2 separate regions of the Homo sapiens genome follow, and region 1 is linked to region 2. The links come from fine-mapping of genetic effects on gene expression. A gene starts in region 2. The other region holds a variant in brackets. All regions are shown on one strand. Distances are between the middles of the regions.

Region 1 (8,747 bases), 56 kb before region 2:
CCTCACTGACCAAGTGAAGCTCAGAGATGGGACCCAACACACCCAAGGTCACATAGCTACGAAAGCAGTGGAACAGAAACTCCCATGAAAGTCTGGGCTTTTTTTTTTTTTTTTGAGACAGTCTTGCTCTGTGTCCAAGGCTGGAGTGCAGTGGCACGACCTAGGCTCACTGCAACCTCTGCCTCCCAGGTTCAAGCGATTCTCCTGCCTCAGCCTCCCAAGTAGCTGGGATTACCGGCATGCGCCACCACGCCCGGCTAATTTTTGTATTTTTAGTAGAGATGGGGTTTCACCATATTGGTCAGGCTGGTCTCGATCTCCTGACCTCAAGTGATCCGCCCGCCTTGGCCTCCCAAGGTCTGGGCTCTTAACCACAGCCTGACCACACCCCAGGCCCGGCTGATAGCCACTTCAATGCTCCCACACGCTGAGTACAGTCCAGATACCCACTCTGCCGGCGGAGTCCCCTCACCTCTTTCCCAGAAGCCACTGGAGTTACACTGGTTGGGATTTTTGGGCATTGGTTTGCAAGTCCATCAGATGGGGCTAATGAGCTCACCCTTGCATGCAGGTCAGAGGACAGCTCACACTGGCCTAGCCCACAAGGGACTCAGGGAATGAAGGCCACAGTGTGGACCCTCCAACCTGCCCTCAGCTGCCTGATGGCCTACAGGTGTTTTCTAATAGGTGACATGTGTCCATTAAAATAAAATACAACCAACCGCTTACCCCTCCTTGCGCCCATCTCCTTCCTCTGCCCTACTCTCCTTCACAGAACATGTCATCCCCATGACCTATCATGCATGCATTGCGTTAGTCATATATTGCTTGACTCCCCAACACCAAGAAGGGAAGGGATGGTTTATCTGATTTATCACCTTTGTACTCTCAGAGACAAGACAGTACTTGGCACACAGTAGGTGCCCAATAAATGTTTGTTGAATGACTGAATTAACAAATGAATGATGTGCATGAAACTCTGCACAGAGTCATGGAGTGCTTAAAGGCTCCTGGTTACACCTGGCCATTTCACAGGTGAGGACATGAGGCCTCAGGATGGGCTCCCCTGAAGTCCCCAGGCAGGCAGCAGGGGCTCTGATCTGCTCTGTGCCTCTGCTGGGCTGGACCGAAATGGGCCTTGAACACAGGTGTGGGCAGCCACCTGGCCAGGCTCCCCAGCTTGAGCCCTGGCGCCCAACAAAGGCAGGTTGCTGCTGGAGGTAGCTGAGCTGGAGGCCAGAGCCCTGGGCTCTGAGCTGTAACCCCTGAACCTGACCTCTTGGGGTCCTTGGGCCAACAGCCCCTGGCTCACTGGGGTCATCAAGCCTCCCCTAACCAGCCTGAGGGGCACTGTGCCCTGGTAAATCTCTCAGTGAGATGGGAACCCAGAGTCACCTACGCCCACAGGGAGATTCCCCACAGAGGCCTGCTTCACCATCTAAGCCTCACAACAACCCCGGAAGGGAGGACTTTCGCTATGGGTTATATGGAAACCCAGGCCCAGAGATGTTGGGACATCTGTCCCATGTCACATGGCTGGGGCACACTGGGGAGCTGGGATTTGAGACAGAGTGACTGACCCCTCAGGGCACTGAGCAGCCTTCTGTCTGCAGCGTGGGGGCAGGGGTGAAGGTGCCCATTGCTTCCTTATCACTGGGCCTCACTTTTTCCATCTGCCACTGGTTGGGCTCCAGTCCTAAGGAAAGGGCTATCTGTCTTGCCTGCCCCCAAGAGCCAGGGCTGGGGTGGGGGAGGCTTGGCTGGGAGTGAGAGCTCCCAGGCTGCTCCCTGAGGCTGGGTCGGTAAAAGCTTCCTCTGACCCATCTGTTGAACTCCCTGATGACCCCAGTGAGCCAGGGGCTGTTGGCCCAAGGACCCCAAGAGGTCAGGCTCAGGGGTTACAGCTCAGAACCCAGGGAACATCCCCCAACACGCTCCCAGCCCCAGGGATCTACAGATCCTCAAGGTTCCACTCTGGATCATTTCAGAAAGATACTGAACTTGTCAGTGGGTCAAGGGGCTCCTGGGGGGACACATACTGGGCTACTGCCAGATGGGAAATGGCCCCAGCGAGCCTGGGGCAGGGAAGACTTCTGCAAGGCAGTGTCTCCTCAACACAGCCTGGGGAAGCCTTGTGTTCCCTCAGCCATAAACCTCCATTTGCTCAAAGTTTATGCACCATAGGGTTGAGGGGGGCAGCAGTGTGGGAAGGAAACACACCAAATATGCTCCAGGAGCCCTGGGCCACTGTGTGACTTCTGAGGGCCTCTGAGGACTTCTGACTTCTGTGTGACTTCTGAGGGCCTCAGTTTACTCGGCTGTAAACTGGGCATTGTCAAGAGTCCATCTTTCTCAGGGTGGTTGTGAGGGCCGTAGGCAGCGACCCAACACTCCCTGCCATCCAGGTGGGCTGCGGGGCCCTGGTTCTCAACCCTAATGGGGCCTGGGGCTGGTCTAACGCGCAGGGGAGCTAAAGAACTTCCCCTTGCGGCTGTGGGGAAACACCTGGTGTTCCTGGGCCCAGGGCGAGCCTGTGTGCATTCCAGGCAGTGAGAAACGGGTCACAGAATACAGCTCTGAGAAACAGTGAAAACTCTGACGACAGCCCCCAAGACCCTCACCACGGCAGGCTGCCCTGACAGTCGCCAGCCCCTCACAGGTTTCTCAGGGCTGCTGAGGTCCCCTCCCCGGGCCAGGTGGGTGGTACTCACAGTCTCAAAGTGGAGGGGGCGGAGGTGTCCCTGGAACCCCAGTGCCTGGCCTGCCTCTGCGGCCCCGGGGGATGAGCTGTGGGTCCATCCCCACAGCAGGTCCTGACGTCTGACTTCCTCCCTGCTCAGTCGGCATCCAGGAAACCACACCCAGGGGAGAGGGTGCCAGGCACCCTGGGGCCCCCGCCCACCTGCCCTCCAAAAGGCCCCCAGGCACTGCTGAGGGGGCTCCTTCCAGGTCTGGCAAACCCAAATGGCTTCACTGGGCAGGCCCCAGTCAATAAATAATACACCCACCTCCCTGGACAGTCTCTGGTGCCTGATCGTGTTTCAGGGCCACTTAAGTTCCAGGCAGACTGCTTTGTTCAGAGTGCCGGGCCCCTTCTGGGTCTCTGGCCACATGGGCACTGCACTGTCACGGAGGGCCAGCTGGAGCCAGCAGCATAAAGTAGTGTGACAGGGGTCCCTGGAGAGAGGGTGCCCTACTTACTTAGCAGCTTGGGCCCAAAGGGGACCCAGGGGTGGTGCCAGGGTAGGGTGGCCAGTCTCGTCTCCCCATGGCCAGGCAGGGCCCCCCACATCCCCCACAGGGGTGCCATCTGGAGAGCCGCCACCAGCCCATCCTGACATTGCCAGTGTCCGGGCCCAGGCCCCTCCTCCAGGAAGCCTCCTCTCCGCCAGGAGTGCTCTGTCCCTGTCTGAATTCCCACTGCAACCGCCAGCCAGTCTGTCTGTCTCCTTCTTTGGGTCTCAATTGTCATCTCTCATCTAAACAGTGGCCGGCCGCCACATCTCAACCGGCCTTCCCTGCCCCCAACGCCCCACCACTCCCTCTCCACAGTCTCATTTCCTCACAGCAGCCCGGGTGACGGTTTTAAAACAGAAAGCACAGCAATGTTACCCAGCCGTGGCTCTCCCGCCCCAGTCAACTTTCAAGCCCTCTCCAGGATCTGGCCCTGCCACCACGGGGACTGCTCCTCCCGCCCTCTCGACTCCTGCCAGCCTCCTCCTCTGTGCTCCTCCTGCAGGTGCACACAGACCTCAGGGTCCTTACACCAGCTGCTCTCTCTGCCTGCTCTTCCCCAAGGTCCTCACAAACTCACTCCACCCTGTCACTCTCAACGCAAGGCCACCACTGCAGACGAGTCTTTGTTTTCTTTTCAAACAGTCTTATTAAGATATAATTCACACACCATACAACTCACCCATTTAAAATGTATAGTTCAATGATTTTATTAATAGTATATTCCCAGAGGGGTGCAACTGTCACCACTATCTATGTTTAGCATATTTTCATCACTCAAAAAGAACCCCTCCCCAGCCCTGGATCACGGCAAACCTACCTCCCGTCTCTATAGATTTGCCTGTTCTGGACATTTCCTAGAAACGGGACCATACGCTCTGTGGTCTTCCGTCTGGCTTCTTTCACTTAGCATGATGTCCTCAAGGTTCACCTGTGCTGTAACACGTGCCAGAACTTCATTTCTTTTTGTGGCTGAATAATATTCCACACTATGGACAGACCACATTGTGTTTATCTATTCATCCACTGACGGCCACTGGGAGAGGCCCTTCTTGACCTCCCCAGGCCATGTGGCTCCCTCTCCCCGATCACTCTGTCATCCCTCCCTGTTTTATTTTCTTGGCACCGATCTTTGCCTGAAGGCATCTTCATTTGTTTATTTTCTCTTTATCATTTCTCTCTCACCTGAACATCTATCTGCTCCAGGAGGCCTGAGTGTCCACCTCACTCACTGCTGTATCCCCAGGGTCTAGCCCGGGGCAGCAAACAATAGGTGCTCAGCAAACTACTTGCTGATCAGCGGAAGAAAGCCTCTTCCCATGTGTCAGAGTGGCTCATGCCCATGCCGCCTTGCTGCTGGGCTCTGAGCTCTCGGCGACAAGTGCTGCCCTGTGGTGCTTGCCAAGAAGAGCCTCACCCACAACTCCGGTGAGGAAACCAGTAACGCAAAGCCTTGGACTCAGGTCCTCCTCTGTGCTGTGGGACAGTGCTCCTCACAGGGTGGGCGCTAGCTGGCTGGATGTGGGAATGGATAGTTAGCACCTGGCACAGTGTCAGGCACAGAGTAGGTCTTCATCCCCTGAACGAAGACTCGATGCAGGGAGAGGGGGCG[G/A]CAGTCACTAGCAGAGATGGGAACCGAGGAGAGGGAGGTGAGGCTGGCAGGGCTGAGGCAATGGTGAGGCCCACGGGTGAAAGGGGAAAGCAGCCATAAGGGAATTTATGTGTGCTCCAGGCAGTGCCCAGAGCCAGAGAAGTGGCGGCTCTGCTCTGCTCTGCCCAGGACCTCCTGCCCATCCCAAACTCAGCTCTGGGCTCTTCCCGGAGATAGACAGCACGAGCCAGGGTGTGTCCAGAAGGCGTGGGTGGGGAGGAGGCTGGTGACCCCTTCCTCAGCCTCAGGGAGTCCTGGTCTCTGCAGGCTGTCCAGAGCTGGGGAGCAGATGGGTTGTGAGGCTCAGAGGACAGGGCCAGGCCACTTCAGTGTGTGGGTGGGTGGCAGCGAGCACCGCAGGAAGGATGGTGCCAGTTCCAAGTGGGAACAAATGTCCTCGCGTCAGAGCTGCCTAGGCATGGCCCAGGCTGGGAGGTGGTGAGCACTCTGTCCCAAGAGGAACGCCCACTGGCCCTCCTGCAGAGGGGCATCAGATGGCTAATTGTCCAGGAAGCTCCCTGGAAGCTCTCAAAGGCTGGCTGCCAGCTGAGCTGTTCACGGCCCTCCTGCCCAGATGCAGCCACGGTGGGAAGGCAGAGGGGGGCAGGGCCAGGGCAGCCAAGGCCACCCCACTCCTTATCAACCAGCACCCTGGGCCCCATGTGTTCCAAGTGAGCTGCCCTGGCCCACGAAGAGGCTCAAACGCCCCATTGGCTCTCAAGGCACAAAACGATCTTTCTTTTTCAATATAATGCCAGATGCAAAAGTGATCTTCCTGCCTGACCTGAGAGGGGCTGTGGATTTATCAGGGCACTGCCCTGTACCCAGAGCAAGGCCTTTGTCTGCCAGGGGCCCAGAGGTGAGTGCCCAGAGAAAGGCCAGCCAGGGAAGACGCAGGGAGGGGAGGGGCGGGGAGCTGGTTAAAGGGTCTCATCCACCCTCCAGAACTACTGTATCCCCACACGCATCTCACAGGCGGGGAAACAGGGGCTCAGGGAGGCTGCCTGTTATACAAACAGCCAATGCCTCAGCAGCACCTACTGCAGCTGGGGGAAGCTTACAGGCATTGTCTCATGGAAGCTTCAGAACGTCTCTAAGAGTCACGTCCACGGTAGGAAGGGGCTGAGCCCAGTTTTGAACTCAGGTCAGCCTGATTTCTGAGCCTGTGTGCTTCCCACTTCATCACGTTATCCCCCTAAGCCCCCACGCTGAGACTCAGAGGACAAGGAGGGGGTGCCACAGCCATGCACCCTGCTGGATGCCAAGCCAACAGAACCCAGTGATGACCTGCCAAGAAGCCCGCCCAGCTGGCATGGCTCCCCCCCAACTCTACAGGCGAGGAAACAAGCCCAGAGAGGTTTAGCAACTTGCCCGAGGGCTGCACATCTCACAACCTACCGTTGTGGGCTCTAAACCCTGGGGTGCCCAGCTCCCAAGCTGTTCTGTCCAGGATACAGCCTGCAGCCAGGATCGTCCCTCTCAGAGTCCTCGGGCCAAAGTTCCAGAGACCCTTCTCCCGGCTCCTTGACTGCGGTCGCCAAACCCCTGGGCAGAGGGCCAGGGCTGGCAGGCGCACAGCTGCTCCACACACACCTCTCGCTTTTCCAGATGTGAATGGGACCCAGCCAGGGGCAACAGGCTCACTCGGAGGGGAATCTGAAGACGCAAGTGGAAAACTATGCGCTGTCCGATCGCAACCCTCCAATCTGTCCCTGTGGCCGCCGGCAGCTCCGCCTTGGGCCACAGACCTGCTGACTCAGGGCTTCCCTGGCAGCCGAGGGGGCTGGGATCCGCAGAGGGCCTGCTCCTGGCTGGCTGGCTGGTTGGGGCGTGGCCTTAGTCCTTTCAGGGGCTCTCAACAGAATGGGGTAGGGGTCGGGAGGGCAGAGTGCTTCTCTTGGAGCCCAAGGCCCATCCTCCCCAGTTAACCACAGGGGCGCCTGGCAGTTATGGGTGCTAAGAGTGGGTTTGGGACAAACCCAGTGCCAATTATGGTGCCCACACCCACCCCACCACTCTCCTCTCATTGGTGGTGAGGAGGCCACCCGCCAGTGCTCGTGACACCCCTGTGAAGCTACCTGTCTATCACCACTTGACAGCCACAAAGCCTCCCGTAAGGCCCCGCCCCACAGCCCCGTCAGGTGGCCGTGCCATTCAATGAGGAGACTGAGGCACAGAGAGGCCAGTCTGCCAGGCTCTGTGAGGCGGTGCTGCTTCTCCTACAGACCATGTGGGCAAACGGCAGCCAAGAGGGAGCGAGCGAATCACCCTTGGACAGGGCACAGCGGGCCTCCCAGTGCCGAGCCCTCTGCATTCTGTCAACAAGCCCTGAGGTTTCCAAAGTGCCAATACCTGGAAACCTTGGGACAGAAGGGGACTCAGGAAAATCCAGCTGTGGTCACAAGGAAAAGCACACGGAGAGCTCACCAAAGTCCAGGACTCACCCGCTGCCTGGCCCAGCTCCCAAGTCACCCACCCAGGAGGTCTATCCCGGGGTCTGGGGCAGGGGCAGGGGCAGGGGCAGGCAGCCGCTGACTCACTCCAGGGCTGAGCTCTGCCTCTCTCCTTTCCCACAGCCAGCCGGCATCCTCATCCCAAGAGAACACTTTAGCCCTCACTGTCTGCCCTGCTCCCTCAAACCTGCCCAGGCCCAAGACCCGCCATTGAGGCTGAGGCCCAGGGCCCCAGGCACTCTCACCCAGCAGCAGAGACAACTATGGCCACTGTAATTATGGTTTCTTATTACAGTGAGAGTAAACTGTGTGGCTGGGTTTCCCCTTTCCCTTTGGCTGCCAGGAAACTTGGCAATTTTTACCCCAACAGAAGAACCTCAGGACCCTGTATATCTCTGTTCTGTTCTATTTTTCTACCCTAGCTCATGACATCCTATTCTAAATTGTGCTTTTTCCACTCCTGATTCTTTTTTTTAGAGATGAGGTCTTACTGTGTTGCTCAGGCTGGAGTGCAGTGGCTATTCACAGGCATGATCATCACACACTACCCTTGAACTGGGCTCAAGCATTCCTCCTGCCTCAGCCTTCCGAGTAGCTGGGACTAGAGACATGCACCACCATGCCTGGCTTCTGATGTTTTTTATTAACTATTTTGTTGCAGGTATTTTCTGTAAGCTGTCACAAGTATTTTGGGAAGGAAGGAAGAAAGGAAAGAAACAAGGAAAGAAGGAGAAATAGAAGGAAGGCAAAAAGGAAGGAAGGAAGGAATGCTTATAAAGTTTATACACCAGAGAGTGAGGGCAGAAAGAAAGAGGGACAATCTTTCAATCCCTTACCTGTTGCAAATCCACCCCTTTAAATAAAATAATATGCCCTTAGGCGGCATCCAAGTACAAACACATCTTCCAAATAGGTGGCTGCCCCTAAGCCCTTCCATATACAAATTCGGGCCCCGTGTAGTTCCCCTTTACAGATGGGGAGACCCCAGCCTTGCCTGAGATCACAAGGGACCTGGCTTCCTGCGCCCTGGTCTCCCTCCTTCTGGCAGCTGCAGAGGCCGCAGCGATCACAGATGGTGTCCCCTCCCCAGGGGGCCAAGGAGCTCTGCTCCACCCTTTCATTCTCACCATGCAGGCGCCATTCCAGATACCCCCACCACCCCCCACAGCTGTCCAGCTGGGGAGAAAGCTCAACGGCAAGGGTCATCGTATCCAACACTGACTGAATGCTGGCACCGCACCGGGCCCTGATCTTAGTGTGTATTACCTCACTGAATCCTCAAAACAATCCTAAAAGGATCTGCAGATGGGAAACTTTGGCTAGAGGTGAAGCCGCTTCACACCACTAACAATGCCAAAGCCAGCATTAAACCTGGGCAGCCTGGTGTCTGAGTCCGGGCTGAGCCCTCA
Region 2 (16,231 bases):
CAGCCGTGGCCTCTGGGCAGAAGAACAAGAAGCAAGGGAACCAAATAGACAATATGTGCAGCCTTTTTTTGTACCATGTGGATGAATAATCTCTCAGTTATATGACTATATTTGAAAAACAACAAAGACGTAACCATCCCTTTTGTAAGCTAAACTTCATCACTCACACTTTTATTCAAGAGGGGGAAATTTAAAAACACAAGATACCACTTCACACCATTAGGATGGCTATTATTAAAGAAAAACAGAAAGTAATGAGTGATGGCGAAGATGTGGAGAAACCAGGACCTTTGTGCAGTGGTGGAGGGAAGGTAAAGCAGTGCAGCTGCTGTGGAAAACAGTATGGCGGCTCTTCAAAACAGTCAGCATCCAATCACAATCTGACCCAGCAATCCCACTTCTGAGTATACACCCAACAGAAATGGAACCAGGGACTCGGAGAGGTATTTGCACACCCATGTTCACAGCAGCACTATTCACAACAGCCAAAAGGCAGAAACAACCCAGTGTCCATCAATGGGTGAATGGACAAACAAAATGTGGTCCATCCGCACAATGGAACAGTGTTCAGCTTTAAAAAGGAAGTTCTGCCCATTGCCGCAGCAGGGATGAACCTTGAGGACATGAGGCTAAGTGAAGTAAGCCAGTCAGGAAAGGACAAATGCTGTCTGATTCCACTCACATGACATCCCCAGGGCAGTCATATTCACAGGGACAGAGAGCAGAATGGTGGGTGCCAGGGGCTGGGGATGCAAGATGGGAGTCTGCGCTTACAGAGCACAGAGCCCTGTTTGGGAAAGTGAAGTTCTGGAGATGGATGCTGTGTTGGCTGCACGGCACTGTGAATGCACTTACTGCCGCTGAAATGTGTGTAATTAAAAAAGGCAAACATGTGGTCGATCTGCACAACGCAACAGTGTTCAGCTTTAAAAAAGGAAGTTTTCTGTCTATCTTACCACAATTTTAAAAATGGTGATTTGTACCTTGTCAGGCCAGGCCCCTCAGGGATGCTAGAAAGCAAAGGCAGGACTTCCGGGCAGCTGGTGACAACAGAGGGGCCGGCACTGTGTCTGTCACAGCGAGGACTCGCCACGCGCCATGCGGGAGCTCTATGAGGGGGCCCATTTGCCTGGGGGAGTCAGGAAAGAGGCACAGGCTGGGCTGTGAGGTCTGAGGTGAAGGGGAAGAAGGGCACTCCCGGCAGAGGAGCCAGCATGGGCAAGAGTGTGGCAGGGTGAGCCTTCCAGGCAGGGCTGGGCAGGAGTTGGAACGTTGTGGGATCGTGGGAGGCCAGGAGGACCAGGAGAGAGGGCCTCAGGCCCCAGAGCGGCTGAGGAGAGAGGGGTGTGTGCAGGAAGGGGCGCCCACTGCCCCACCCCGTTCTCTTCCCAGCTGTATCCAGGAGCCGCTCTGGCAGGTGCCACCAGGTCTTATTTACTGTGTCCCTTCTCTGGGCGGTAGCTCCATGCAGGCAGGGCGGGCCTGGTCCATTTACAGGCGTAGCCCACAGGCCTGGCGTGTGTCAGGACGTGGACTAGATGTCCAGTGACCATGGTGGGCTGAGTGAATGAATGGGTGAGTGATCGGCAGGATGGGGCCATGTGAATGAGCCAGCATGCCTGGAGCTGCTGTGCCTGGCAGACACCACTCCTCCCACTCCCAGTCCCCTGTGTGTCGCAGCATAACCAGGAACTTTCCAGATGAGGTCAGAGGCCCAGAGAGGGCAAGCAGCCTGCCCAGGGTCACATAGTGAGGCAGGGACAGAGCTGGAGTGGAGCCTCCTTGTCCTGCTCTGTAAGGCCCCAGGTGGGCCAGGGCCTCAGAGACCAAGGGGCAGGATATTTTCATCCACTCTGCCTGCAGGGAGCCTCCTGGGGGTAAGAGTGAGATTTGAGAGAACAGGAGCCATCCAACAGGCTGGAAAGAGCGGGAAGGGCAGACGGGGGCTGTGTCGTCAGTAGGCTTTTGGGGGAAAGCAGCAGGCTCTAAGGTAAGCCTGGGAGCAGCTTAGCCAGCACCCAGGAGCAACGCCTCCTAAGCCCCCACTGGTGGTGACAAAACTGGTCTGGTCCACAGGCATTGGGTGGGGGGCTCCCAGCCACTGTGGGACAAGTACCCTCAGCACCCAGGACAAGCAGGCTGGGGGCAGCCATGCCACAGTGGCAGTGACCAACACATTCCAGGTAGTGCATGCAGTGGGGAAGGGGTGGGGAGGGACAGAGCCTTGCGGCCAAGAGATCTGGAACCTGCTCAGGGTAAGGCGTCAGGTCCCCCAACACCTGGGCCCCCTGACCACCCTCCTTCCCTTCCTCATCCCATCTCTGTGCACTGGGTGCCCACTGGCCCCACCCACAAGGGCACACAGATCTGGCTGGGGAGGAGCAGGGTCTGGAGTCAGGCAGACTCACTGGCTGTGACCCTGAGCAAGGCACTTCCCTGGAAAACAGGATGGCACACAACCACCCTGCCAGAGTTGTGGGATTCAACAAGATAAGGCACTTTTGTTGTTATTCTTAAAGACCAAGTGAGTCAGTGCAAGGAGGCAGGCCAGGGCCCTGAGGAGATGGTGCCAGGTCCTTTAGGGGCACAGGGGGCCTTGGGGGGCTTCAACAAAGGGCCTCCAGGGAGGGACAAGGATGGCGTGACACTTGTTGAGCTTGGGGCCCAGCCTGCTTGCTGGCCCGCAGGCAAACCCTGGAAGGGGAGTATCAGCCCCACCACATAGAGCAGGAGGCTTAGGCCCAGTGCCTGTGCTTGGGGCACTTGGGAAAAGATGCTGACCATGGGCTGACCAAGGCCCAGCAGGGTCCTGCCCCGGGGCTGGGGCCAATCCAGGCCTTACGCTTCCTCTGAGGCCCAGGGAGGATGTGGATGTCGGACCTGTCCTTCACGGATCCTTTGGTGGAAGATGGTGGCAGGTGGGTCAGAGGTAGGTGCTTGCCTAAGCAGACGCTACTTGTTGCCCTGCCTGTCCAGCAACTACCAGAAAAGTCTGTTCCTCTCAGTCTCTAAAATTCACCCCAGACAGGGTCTCTAAGTCCCAACATCATGCCAGGCCATGCCAGCTTTGGGTATACAACGGGGAGCAGGCCTGGGCCCTGGCCTTGCAAAGGGGCAGAGGCAGTGGCCAGGCCTCTGAATTTTCAGGCCCCAGGCTCATGACACCCCCTCATGGTTGGGAGGCCCCAATGCAGTTCCCCAACCTCTTTAACCCCCAGTCTTTTCTTCATATCTTTAGCTTCCAGCATGACGATGTGACTCTTTACTCCAGGGCCTCCATGAACAGCCCCAGCCCCTTTACCTCTCTTCTTGGTCCACTCTGCTCCAGCAACACCATCCTCCCTCTGTGGCCCAATCCTGTCAAGCATGCCCTCACCAGGGCCTCTGCACTTGCTGTCCCCTGCACCCGGGGCCCCCACTCTTCTCCTGGATAGTTCCTCCTAATCATTTAGATTTCTGTTCAAAGGTCACCTCCTCCAGGAAGCCCTCCTCACTTCCTGAGTGGCCACACAGTTCACTCAATCCATTCCCATTGGGCTCTCTATCTTCTTCATTTCTCTGTGTCCTTCTCCCCTGCAGTATCCCCTGAGAGCAGCACCCTCTCAGTGGTTCCCAGCACTGAGCTGGACATACAGCAGGTGCACCATGAACACTAGCTGAAGGCAGGGAAGTGAAGGCCCAGGCCTGGTTATGCGGCCTTGGCTGCATATCCCAGTCTTTCTGAGTTATAACCAGGACCTGCCCAGTGGCTTCCTGGGGCTGTAAAGGGTGGATAGATGCTACAGCATTCTTGGAAAATAGCCCAGTGCTGTGTGGGTCATTCATAATAACCATTTTTAATAGTGATCACTGCATGGCAAGAAAGGCTACCGGTCATCACACGTGCTTGAGTGAAGACTGGGCCTCCGGTTCCCTCCCTGCATCTCTCTCGGTGGGCTGGGGCTGCTCTTCCCTGGCATCCAGCCCAGGCCCACTGTCCAGCAGATGCTGATAACTGTGCCTGCAGAACTGACCCAGCCAAGGTGATAATGGTGAAGGCTCAATGCACAAGTTTCTTGGAGGTGTGTGTGTGTGTGGAATGTTCCAGGCCCAGTCCCACCAGTGTCCCTTCTTCTGTCTAGGGGAGACCCACCAGGGCTTCGCTTCCTTCATGAAGGCCCCACTGCAAGCAGCAGGTCAGGGCATCCCACCAGAGGGAGACCACTGCCTCCTGCGGGGGCCGGCAGGTCATCATGTCCCCCAAACAGAAGGAAGAGAGGGGTCGGGACAGTTCCAGGCAGTGAATGAATGATTGAACAGGCATGGGTAGGCGAGTGCTCCACTGGCCTGGCCAAGCAGCCCACATCTCACACACCACAAACTCCTCACAGCCTCACTTCCTGTGTTCAAGTGACAGGATGTGACATGCCCATGAGGACAGAGGGGCCCCTTGCAGAGATGATGAAAAGGATGCTGTAGTTACAGAATTGAGGGCCATCCTTCATTCAGACACCATTCATGAAGCTGCCAGTACAGCAATGACCTCAGGTGTTAGCAAGTTTGATTCAGGGTCTGATTCTTGGAAGCCTCCTGATGTTCCCCCATTGGGTTAAGAAATCTTCTCCTGCTTTTGTTGTCATCCTTTATCCCATCCAGTGTGCCACCTTCACGATGGACTGAGCCCTGACCGGGACAGAGTCTCGATTCCATAAAGCTCCCTTGGGTGCACACCAGGGGCCCAGAGAGTGGAAGTGGCGAAAATGGAGGCTAGGGAGTGAGGACAGTGGGGTGGGGGTGGGGGCCCGCCGGCAGGGCTCCACTAGGCTGAGGATAGCCTGGCTGTGCCATGCACAGGGCCGCTGGAGCAAGTCTGTCCCGATTTGACATGTGGCATGCTGGGGAAGGGACACCACTGCCAAATGTACGGCAGGAAACAGCTGTGTGACCCCAGTCAAGTTCCTTCCCCTCTCTGAGCCTCAGTTTCCTCTTCTGTAAAACGGGATCGACAGTATCACATTTTACAGCAGTTGGTGAGACCCCATGAGGCAACTAAGCATGAGAACGCTTTGCAATCAAGTTGGGCAGCTCTGATAGTGGCTACAGTGCAACTGTTGGGAAAGTTAAACATCTAGAGATGCTCAACACCCCATCTCCTTTCCACACTGAAAGGCAGGGTAACAATAAGGTCTGAGCAGCAGGTGCTGGGAGAGCCTGGGCCTAGAAGTGGGCCTGCCGCGGGTTCTGGGTGGGGAGTAATGGTGGGCAAACACAGGCTTATCAAGTGCAGCAGGGTAACCTCAGGAAAGGCCTGCTCTTGGTTACAAGATCCTTGCGTACAAACAGAGCCACCCCCTCCAAGTATCTTTGGTATTTCTGGTGCCAATAGGTTTGGTGGCAGAGCGGGGATGGCCTGGGAGTCACAATGCTCAGACTGGGAGCCTGAGAGCTGGAGAAGAGTGAAAAGACCCACAGAAAAGAAAGACAGTGAGCGCTAAGCCCCCTCGGGCCAGCCCCTCTCTTAGGCAGGAAGGCTAGACGAGCTTATTCCAGGAATCAGCAAATCCACCAGAGCCACGTGTTCAAATGCAGGTGGCTGGGCCCCCAACAGATTGAAGCAGACTCTCCAGGGAAGAGTATTGGAATCCATATAGAACATTGTCCCTGCAAAACTGCAATTGGATAGGCTTGGGCAACGCAGCCACAGTGAATAGCTGCATCACGGGAACATCAACCACACCTGGACATTAAAATCATCCGGAAAATGAAAAAGATCCTGAGGCTTGAGCCCTCCCCCAAACCTAGAAACCAGAATGTCTGGGGGTGGGACCCACACAGTTTTTTTTTGTTTTTTTTTTTTTGTTTGTTTCTTTAACTGCTCCTCAAGTGATTCCAGTATAGCTCCTGGGCTACAACCCCCACCCCAGGCTAGTATACTCCAGGGTTCCAGTAGAACTGTGCTGAGCCTCAGTTTCCCCATCTCTAAAATGGGGTTCTTAGTGCCTGCCCAGACAAGGCCTTTGTGAGGATGACATTTCTGAGCATTGGAGGCAAGCAGGCACTGGGCCAAGTAATCTGAATATGAATTGTCACATTTCATCCTCATGACATCTCCCCTCCCCGATGTAACAGCCCTGAGAGTTTAGAATTTCTCTGGCATCAGGCTCCTGGGCCCAGGCAAAGGTGTGGCAGGGAGGAGACAGCTGTCTCAGGAGGACCTATTCCCAGCCACTGGGGTGGAAGTTCCACGCTGGGAAAGGATTTACTATTTGTTTCAGAAAATGCAGCGAGGGCCTTGCCACAGGGAGTGAGAACTTTGGTGTGCTCTGCTCGCATCGACAAACCAACCTGTGAGCTTCTCCACTAAAAAAGCAAGTGAGCATCACAGCGAACCAGAGGCCACCGTCATCCCTCGAACCAGAGGCCACCGCCATCCCCCAAACCAGAGGCCGCCATCCCCCGAACCAGAGGCCACTGCCATTCCCTGAACCAGAGGCCACTGCCATCCCCCAAACCAGAGGCCACTGCCATCCCCCAAACCAGAGGCCACCGCCATCCCCCGAACCAGAGGCCACCGCCATCCCCCGTGGGTTGCCGCCTGGCACTGCTGACGCAGCAGAGGCAGAGGTGTGTTTACTTTCCCTCAGTGGAGGTGACGGGGAGCTGCCACTCTATCAGGGGTTCCACAGGCCCCTGCCATGGTAAGGGGCCTCCATCGATTAGGGAGGCCTTGGGGTAGCCCCCAGAAGGCTCCCCACATACTGCTCCAGGCCTCCTTTTCCTAGCCTTGCGACTGAGCCCAGCTCAAGAGGACTCAGCCATGCTCTCTAACCTCCTAAGGTCTGAGGTCACTGCACAGCCCCAAATGAGTGGGTCCTGGGCAAATAGTTTAGGCAGGTGGAGACCTGACGCTGGGCCTCAACCCCCGCAGCCGAGGGTCCCAGAGGAGGGCAAAGGTTGCTCCTCCTAGAACAGCACAGTGCAGCGCCCAGAGAGCTGTGAGGGAAGCTGGCATTCGAACCCCACTGCCCCCTGGGAAGCCTGGCTAACCGAAGCGCAGGCTTTGGTTTCCATAAATACCCGGGCCCGTGATGTCACCGCCCCGTGCAGACTTTCACAGCCTCTGCTGCTGGCGTGAGGCCCAGCACACAGCCGCTCTGCTGCCAGCCCACAGAACACCTGGGCACACAGCTGGACACTGATGCCTCCGTGCTAGGGACGGTGGGCTGGACCTTCACCTGCCCTTGGAGGACGCAGCATCCTGGCCACTGCCTCAGCCTGCCTGCGACCTTCTATCAGGCATGGCTGAAGGGCTGGCCATGGGCGTGCTGGGCAGAGATTCTCTTCCTAAACAGGCTATGGGCTAAACCAAAGCCAAAACAGTAGGAGCCGGTCTGGGCACCCTGAATGTGGATCTGGGAGGGGGGATACCTGCTCTCACAGTTGGGAATTTCACAGCCTGCTGAAGACCTGCTGACTAATAGCCTTTTTCTCATCGTCATCACCAACAAACACCTCCGCTGCAGGGGCCGAGCGCCGGCATCCCTGCTGGGTGGCCAGCTCCCTCTGCAAGTCACCTGCACATCCACCTGCCCCTCCCCCAACGATGCCCCTCACTCCAGCTCCCAGCTCAGCCGGGCCCCTCTGGCCTCTGGCTTCAGGCAGAAACCTGCCACATATACTCACAAATAGCGTCTTCTGCAAGCCATCCTGTGTGAATCCGTTCTTCCCTGTTCTGGCTCCCTCTCCAGCGGGGAGGCTCAACGTGTTTCCAAGAGGAGCAGGCGGCTCAGGCAAGAAGTGGAGGGGAATAAAATTAAATCGCGGGGCGAGTCACATTCCCGGGGGTGGCGGGCTCCTCCAGGGAGGCTGGGGCGGGAGCGGGGGGCGGCGCCAGCAGCGGGCTGTGGAGGGCCCTGGCACGTAGCGCGCGCTCACACCGTGCCCAGGAGCGAGCGAGGACGTCGAGTAACCGTGGTCGCCAGGCTGGGCGGGGGCGTCCACCTCGCTGCTACCTGGGCCCACCTTGGGGTTTTTCCCTCCCGTCCATCCGGGGTGCGGGGCGCGGGGATGAGGAGGGGAGGGTCGAGAGAAGGCTGCCCCGGGTTTGCTCTCGCAGCATCCGGAGAAGGGGCGGGCGCGCCGGAGCCTCCCCCACCCCCCGCGCCCAAGGAGCAACGTAGTGCGGCCGCGCCGGACCAATCGCCGAGGCGCTGGTCGCCATGGCAACAGCAGCATCAGGCGCGGCCGCTCGGCTGCGCCCTCGCGGCAAAGTCACACACCCGGCGGGGCGCGGGGCGCCGGCCCCTTCCTGGCCCGCGCTGGAAACCTGGAAGTCTGTTGCTAAAATGCACGCGCCGCGCGGAGCCTACGATGACACTACTTTCCAAGGCGGCTTTTCTGCCTTCGGCACTGAGACACGCGAGCCGCGGAGCTCTCGGGGCTCTGGCCCTGGAGTGAGGCCGGCCGACTCCAAGGCTGTCTCTGCCACTGAAGGGCGATGAGACCTTGGCAAGCCGCGTCTCTCCTGGGAGTCTTGATTATGCTACTGTGAAAGGGATCATAACAGCTATACCACGGGGTTCCAGGAGGGCGCACCACGCCAGTAGCTGCACGGTGGATGGCAGAGCAGTCCTCGTTTGTGCCAGTCCTGTCCCAAAGGGGGCTGCACGTGGCTAGGGAGAATTTCTGGTCTAGCTATGGTGCCTCTTCCTCTCCCGAGGACCTTCCATGTGCCGGGCAAGTATCTGCCCTCATGATGTTTACAGTCTAAGGGGAAGCCAGGAAGTAAGTGTGCAGATATAGGATTGCACGTGGTGATAAGGATCAGGATGAAAAGAGAGCAGGAAGAGGGGAGGCAGGGACCCCAAGAGAGGCGGGAAGGAGGCTTCTGCCATCAGACGGGGTGGTCGGGAAGGCCCTCTGTGAGGCACGTGTGGCTGAGACTCGGATGACGCAAGAAGCAGGGGAGGAGCTGGCGTCAAGGCTCTGAGGCGGAAGGCAGCCTGGTGTATTTGACTGGCCCAGAGGAGGCCAGCGTGGTGCAGTGTGCGACAGGGAGGTGGAGGGGAGAAGCGCACATCCATCCTCGGCTCCCACACCCGCCTTTCCCACACAGATTTCTCTCTTCCTGTCTGATGTTCATCTGATCCTCTCTGCTTCCTCATCTGTAAACCAGGAATCCCAGACCTATCTCAGAGGCATGTAGATAATATTCTTCCGTGCACGGTAATCCTCAAGACAACCCCAATGAGGCCTAATACTATCATCCTACTTCACGGGGGAGCGCATTAAAGCCAGAGGTTCAGCAACTGGCCCAAGCCACATAGCTGGCGGGCAGTCTGGCTCCAGAGTCTTGGTTCTTGACTGCTTGAAAGCTGCCTCACTGGGAGGAATAAATGAGAGAGGGAGTAGTTGAGACTGGGAATCGGCTGGATGTGGATGGCAGCCCACAGGGCCATTTCCCTTCCTCTTTCCATTCTCTCCAGATTCACACTCACCGAATTTAGAAGGAGTGATGCTGCATCCTTGAGTTCCATTCCATCCTTTACAGGGGAGGAAATGAACCTCAGGGGGTGAGCGATTTGCCTAAAGTTGCACAGCAAAGAGTGGCAGAGGTGGGACTAGGACCCCAGTCTTCCAGCTCAGTGTCCTGGTAGGGAGCAGAGGTTGGAGCTGCGGCCTCAGGTGGCCAAGGTGAGGCATCGAACAGAACTGCATGACGCTTCCCGATCTGCCCTCTCCAGGTGAATCCATATGCATGACCAATCTTCCTGTAGCACGGACCTCCCTCCCTGAGTCATGTGAGGAATTCATATTTCTGTGGGTTAACATGTTGCAGAGCCCACCCCACCCCTCTCCTCACTGGAGTTTCAAAAGATTTTAATAACATCAAAATTCAGCCACTGCATCAGGAGGGCTCACTTTGTGTCAGGTCCAGTTGTTTCATGGTCTCAGTGAATTCTCAGAAGCGCCCTACGAAGTGAACATAATTACCACTCCTGCTTAGATGGGTTGCACCACATACGGGGGTCTCCCATCAAGGCAGCAGCAGAGCCCAGACTAACTCACAGCCTGGCTCGGGCTAGAGCAATGCCCCTCTCAGCCGCCTTGCTCAACTAGCGATTCTCTTCTCACTTCCATCTTCCAGAGGCGGAAACAGGCTCAGAGTGGTGAATTGGATGCCTTGAGTGTGGAGCACCCAGTGTCCCTTTCCTGGGCTTCCTCTTTTGCTCCCTGGGAGGCCCATGACATGCATCTGCACATCCGTTGCTTCTTCAGCACTTCTTCTTATAAACGTACTCTCCTTTTCCTTCCATGTTATGCTGTTATTTCAAAGCAGAGGAAATGGCAAGGACCCTGGCATTCAGATACAAATGCCAAGATTTTAGGCTTTTACAAAACATCATTTACAGGGCACGTGGGTAGTGCCTACAACCCACCTGCACTGGCGCGGTTTTGATTTCTGACATTCAATATCCAGCGCCGGACCAGGCACAGAGGAGGCTCCAAAAAGCGTGGAGCTGGGATTCCGACTCTGATCTCTGACTACGGAACCCACAAGTTCATCCCTTCAGGCAGTGAGAGGTCAGAGAGTCTCAGAAAAGGGGCGCGCCCACCTGTGCAGGCTGAGCTTCACCTACCTCATGACCCCAAGCCCTCGACATCCAATCTCAGGGCAGATTTGTCAGCCACACCTCCCAGATGCAAAGCCTGTGGTCGTGAGAGGGTCCTGATCACATAAGAAGTGGAGCTACAGAACTCTGGATGGAATTGTCCACTTTCCTCACTTTCGCAGTTGTAACCAGATGTCTGGAGTGGGAAGCAGGGGCAGCCAGCCTTGGGGTTGCTGCCCTGTGACCCTGGTTATATCACAGAATCATCCACCCACTCACCCACCTCTGCAGGCTGGAGACTAAGGCACAGTGGGAACCTAGCATTCAGACAGCGTTTTCATCCCCTGGAGTTTCTGTAAGTGCCCAAGTTCACCCCTGCCCTTGCCTCATCATTGTGGACTGTGGGAAGCCGCTTGGATCAGAAGGTGAGAGCAGCTGCCAAGGGGTAAGTCCAGAAACATCTCACATCCATCTCCCTTCCCTCAACGGGAAAATTTCCACCCTGCAGGCTGGCAGGAACATTCCTGCAGATCGGCTCACTCCTGCAACCTGCGGCCATCTGTCCCCAAGGTGGGAGGAACATGACAGCATTTGGGAAGAGGGAGGACGGAGAAGGTTGGAGCATGCAGTCCACAGATCTGACAGTCACAGAGCTCTTCAAGGCAGGGAGCCCCGAATCCCAGGGATTCAGGATCTTCATCCAGGGCTGGGCAGAAGTGAACCCCCCACCCCCGCTGCTCCGTTCCAACTGTGGAACTGCAAAGCCGTCAACACTCTGACTCTAAATCTCAGGACCACACAGTCTTCAAGTCTGGGGACTTTATTTTCTTTTAGCTGAAGCTTCACATTTTAAAGAAATGAAATCCTAACTGCACAAATGATAAGAAAATGTATTCTCTTTAAACAAAATAAAGCCCCCTTTACCTCCCACCCTCCTAAATCTTATTCCCCGTTCCAATCTCTGCAGAGGTGACCGCTGTCATCTGTTTGGAGTGGATCCTTCCAGAACTTTTTCTATGCATTTATCTACATATATATGCCTATAGAAAATAGGAAGTATTACATAGACCCTAAAAAAAATGGCATCATTTTACAAATTTCTTTCTTTCTTTTTTTTTTTTTTTAAAGACAAGGTCTCACTATGCTGCCCAGGCTGGAGTGCAGTGGCTTTCACGGGAGCAACCATAGCACACTACAGCCTCAAACTCCTGGGCTCAGCGATCTTCCTGCCTTAGCCTGGGACTATAGGCATGCACCACCAAACCCAGAATATTAAGAATTTTTTAATAAAAGATTTAAAATGTGCCAAAAGGCATAAAGATGAATACCGTGAACTCTGATATACCCCTGACCCACTACAAGAAACAGAACATGACGAATATGATGGAAGCCCAGGGTCACCACCTCTGTTAAATCCCCTCGCCAGCCCTGCCCTCCTCCCATCCCCATGGTGAATTCACTCTGTAGTGAATCTCCTGCATAGAGAGGTATCCACAAACCATATAAACACTTGTGCACGTTTTTAAACTTTACATAAGTAGGATCACATTGCATATCTTTTTCTGCAACTCTTTCCCCACTCGGCATTATGTCTGGAAGACTGAATCATGGAATCTCTAAACCACAGACTCTTCCATGCTGAGTTCCCAAATCACAGGCTTTTCTAATCATAGACATGGGCTCGGGCTCTGGTGCTGGGAGGACCTCGCTGGCAGGCTCGTGCAGGGCCCTCCTAACATCTCTGCCCAGCCCCACCCCTCACGTGCAGGTGGCTGACGGAGGGAGGAAGCAGCCGGAAGCAATTATCTCTGGAAATGTGTGTGGGCTTCTGGAAGCCTGGCAAACACCTCCCTCTGCAGCAAACCAAGTATCACTGAGGTGCCCTGTCCCCTGTCTTGGGGGAGAAGATCAGACCCTGGCCCTATAACAGTTGAGCAGCAGTCCTTGATATGCTCCTGAAATGGAGCACATCCACTGCTTCTCGATGCTATTTTGGAGTCCTGGCTGATGGAGATCTGAAAGCCACGAGGGCTGGCATCGGTCCCCACTTGCCGCCTTGCCAGGTTTGCTGCTGACTGTGCCAAGGACGGCCGTGGCCAATGGAGCCTGCTGGGGCCGCGGATGAGTGAGGGAGCTGTGGCCCTGCAGACACTCCCTGCAGGAGCTCACGCTGCACGGGGCCACGCTGGCTGGAGGAAGGGGGCGTGGGAGACAGATGCTGCTTGAGATGCTTCGGCTGCTGCAGGACTCAAGAGTCCTGCTCCCCTGGGGAGAGAACCAGTGAACACATGAGCAGAGGGCACCTAGAGCAGCCCCTGTGCTTCTAAGCCTCTACTCAGGAGCCTGTGAGAGGCCCCTGAAGGATGCAGGGCGGTGTAATGTGAGCGAGAGAAGGCATCATTAAAAAGTGGTGGCCAATGGCAGGACAGGATGGAGCAGCCACAGACACTAAATCAGAGATGCTGGGCCCCTGCGTGCAGAGACAGAGCCCCAGGATGTGGGCTCCCTCCCGCACCCAACGGCTGCCATACCCCTCCTTTCTCCCCTCAAACCCTGCACCTCTCAGCAGGCAGTGTAGCCTGGGGGGGAAGGCCAGGAGCCTCCTCTGCCACCAGCTATGGGATTTTGGAAGGGGACCCCACTGCAGCCCTTCATCTAGATGCCGGGATTAACAGGGCATCTATGTCCACCTGCAGGTGAGAGCTGCGTGAGTGCACACAAGTGGAGCAGTCAGACCAGGGCCCATCCAGCTGCGTGCTCTGCTGGTGTTTGCTTTGCTGTTGCAGTTGTTTTAGAGCCAGGGCAGCTGGAGAGTTCACAGGAGGGACATTCATGGGGCGCTGGAGCCGGAGGTCTGGGCTGGGCAGGGCTGGTGCCTCCCTCTCCCAGCTGCCCCAGGGGGTTCTTCCAAGCCTGGCGTACCTTGTGCCAACCGCCCTTCTGCCCCTACTTCTCACCCTTCCTGTGTTCATATTGGCCTAATATGTTTATCTCAATTTAAAATAATTTTCACTAAAGCAGATCTTTTCTATCAGTATTGTAAATTGTGCATTCCACGTGCTAGTCACTTTCCTCCACCAATAAACATTCAAAGAAGTACGATTTAGAGAGAAGCACTGCTCTCCTGAGGCCCTCACAAGGCCCTGGGTGTCCCAACCTGGCAACTCCTGCACTGATGTTGGGGTGCCAGACAGGATAGGTGCAGAGCAGGGCCGGGCCTGTGGAGGCTGAGTCAGCACAGATGTGCACGTGGAGTTGGGCTGTGTGTAGGGCGGAGGGACCGGCAAGCATAGGCCACTGGCTGCCTGGCCCCATCCCTGTGGCCCTGAGCCTTCCTAAACCTCACGCTCCATCTGCCCAGTCCTGCATCCGTAAGTGCTGACCAATGCTTGCTTTGGGTCAGACCCAGGCCAGGCATGGGAAACAAGGTGAGCCAAGGCCCCATTTCCTGCCTGGAGGAAGGGAGCAGCATGCCTTGGGCGGTGGTGGACACCCAGCAAATTTCCTGCCCAGCCACTTGCCTCCTTCTGGTTGCCGCTTCTTTAATCTCTGGGACTCTGGGGGAGCCAGGACCAGGGCATGACTCAAGCAGGGCTGTGAGAGGCAGGCCCAGAGGTTTGCCAGTGTCGTGGAGACAGAGAACATCCCACCTTGGACCTGAGCTTACCCCTGAGAGATAGAGGCCCCTTCTTTACTGGGGCCCCCATGGGGAGGAGCCTGCATGAGAGGCTGCAGGTTCTCATCACCGGAGCCCTGGGCCAGCCACACCTGAAACCTGGAGGTTATGCCGCCCATATGTCCATTTTACATGAGCCAGTTTGAAGCGGGCTCACTGTCACACAGAACCAAACGTTCTAATGCAAGTACCTTGTAATAGTCACAATACTGAGCGAACATGATCACAGTTATAATATGGTAGAACTGACTGTTTCGATGGAAATGTAGATCAAATAATACTATGTAAGATGAGGGAAGGAGGGGCAAGGTTTTTGAGAAAAAGAGATATAGCAAGGAAAAACAGAAGTTTCCTGGAGGACAAGATGTTGAAACAGAGTCTTGAAGGGTGGCCAGAAGCTTGTTAGGCAGACAGTGCATGGAAAGGTATTGCTTGCAGATGGAACAACATGTGCAGAGGCTTGGAGGTGAAAAGCAGCAGAAAGTCATGAGACAACCTGCCAGGGGTTTGGGCTTCATTATGCGGGTAATGGCATTCCAGGAGGTTTCTGAGTAGAGGAGGGACATGGTGAGGTTTGTGATTAAATAGATCCCCTCATGGGGGAAGGATTAGTGGGGAGAGATTAGAGGCTGGGATACCAGAGGAGAGGTTGGGATGGTGAGTCTGGAGGGAAGAGGTGGAGGCCTGCACTGAGGCATGAGAGTGGGGATGCAGAGAACAGGTGTTTTGGGAGAAGTGTGGGTGGGAGAGGAGAGATGGGGTGGGGACAAGGCATCCACCTGCTCGTCGACTGGGTGGATGGTGGCACCCTTTGTCTATACAGGGACACAGGCAGAGATGCAGGGTGGAGGGAGATATAACCCCTGCCCCCTTGTGAGGTGCCAGGGAGACCCCTGGGGAAGAGTCCAGGAGGCTTTGAGCGTCTGGCTGGAGGCTCAGCCCTGCAGGAGAAGAGAGGAGAGAGTGTGAGGGGTGAAGAGAGGTCAGACAGAGCCCTGGGGACATGGACATTTAAGGGAACAGCAAAAGCCGCTGCAGGGGTGGGAAGAAACCCAGCAGGCATCCTTACCCACAGCTGCCCACCTACCCTCCAACGGCCACTTCCCTGGGCAAGTGCGCTCCCTCCCTGCCTCAGCCTCAGCCTGGGAACTGGGCTGTGCTCCCCAGCCCCCGCCCTGCCGCTGTTCCAGGGGATCTGCCGTCTGTCCTGTCCCGCCACAGTGACTCAGGCCCTGCCCTCCTCCCCGGGGATCTGAGCTAATACAAGAACAACATTCTTAGTAAAAAAGAATCCAAAATAAGGGCTAAGCTTTATGCTCAAAGAAGTTCTTCACAGCATTATTTATAACAACAATAAACAAGCTAAAAGCTCAAACAAATGTTAAGGTAAATGTCCAATATTGGGAGCTGGCTAAAAATGCAAGGTTTCTGCATACAGTGGGATATTATACAGCCTTTAAAAGAGATGTTTACAATGTTTGGGAATAACCTTGATGACTGCGTAAAAAAAAGCAGCTTATATAAGTGCATAGTCAGTATGAATATAACAGCGTGTCCATAACACACAACTAGAAAAACATCTGGAAGGACACACAGACATGCCACCAATAAAAGTTGGCATCTCTGGGTGGCAGAATAACTGGTCAGCTTTATTTATTCCTTCAACTTTATTGATTTACTTTTGTTTTAGAGACAGGATCTTGCTCTGTTGCCCAGTCTGGAGTACAGTGGCACAATCACAGCTCACAGAAGCCTCAAACTCCTAGGCTCAAGCAATCCTCCCACCTCGGCCTTCCAAAGTTCTGGGACTTCAGGAACATGCCACTACATCTGGCTAATTTTTAAATCGTTTATAGAGATAGGGTCTCCCTTTGGCACCTGGGCTGGTCTCAAGCTCCTGGCACCAATGGATCCTCCCACCTCGGCCTCCCAAAGTGTTAGGATTATAGGCATGAGCCACCAT

Evidence for each region. PIP is the estimated chance that this variant, and not a neighbour inherited with it, causes the effect.
Region 1: its variant is fine-mapped to the expression of IQSEC1 in whole blood (INTERVAL, PIP above 0.99).

Annotation. Positions count from the first base shown.
Region 1 is chr3:13,012,867-13,021,613 of GRCh38, forward strand. All of the region lies in intron 1 of IQSEC1 (IQ motif and Sec7 domain ArfGEF 1), which reads right to left. Among named protein-coding and RNA genes, the nearest start is that of IQSEC1, 56 kb to the right of the region's middle. RefSeq lists enhancers at 1,017-1,518, 1,519-2,018, 2,276-3,044, 2,348-2,427, 3,045-3,812 and 6 more. The variant G/A (reference allele first, on the strand shown) is at 4,847.
Region 2 is chr3:13,065,330-13,081,560 of GRCh38, forward strand. It overlaps IQSEC1 (IQ motif and Sec7 domain ArfGEF 1), which reads right to left and starts at 8,100. Exons shown (of 14, transcript NM_001134382.3): 1 at 7,663-8,100. The coding sequence starts at 7,685. RefSeq lists enhancers at 4,413-4,492, 4,503-4,672, 14,852-15,353, 15,354-15,853 and silencers at 8,016-8,175, 8,296-8,475.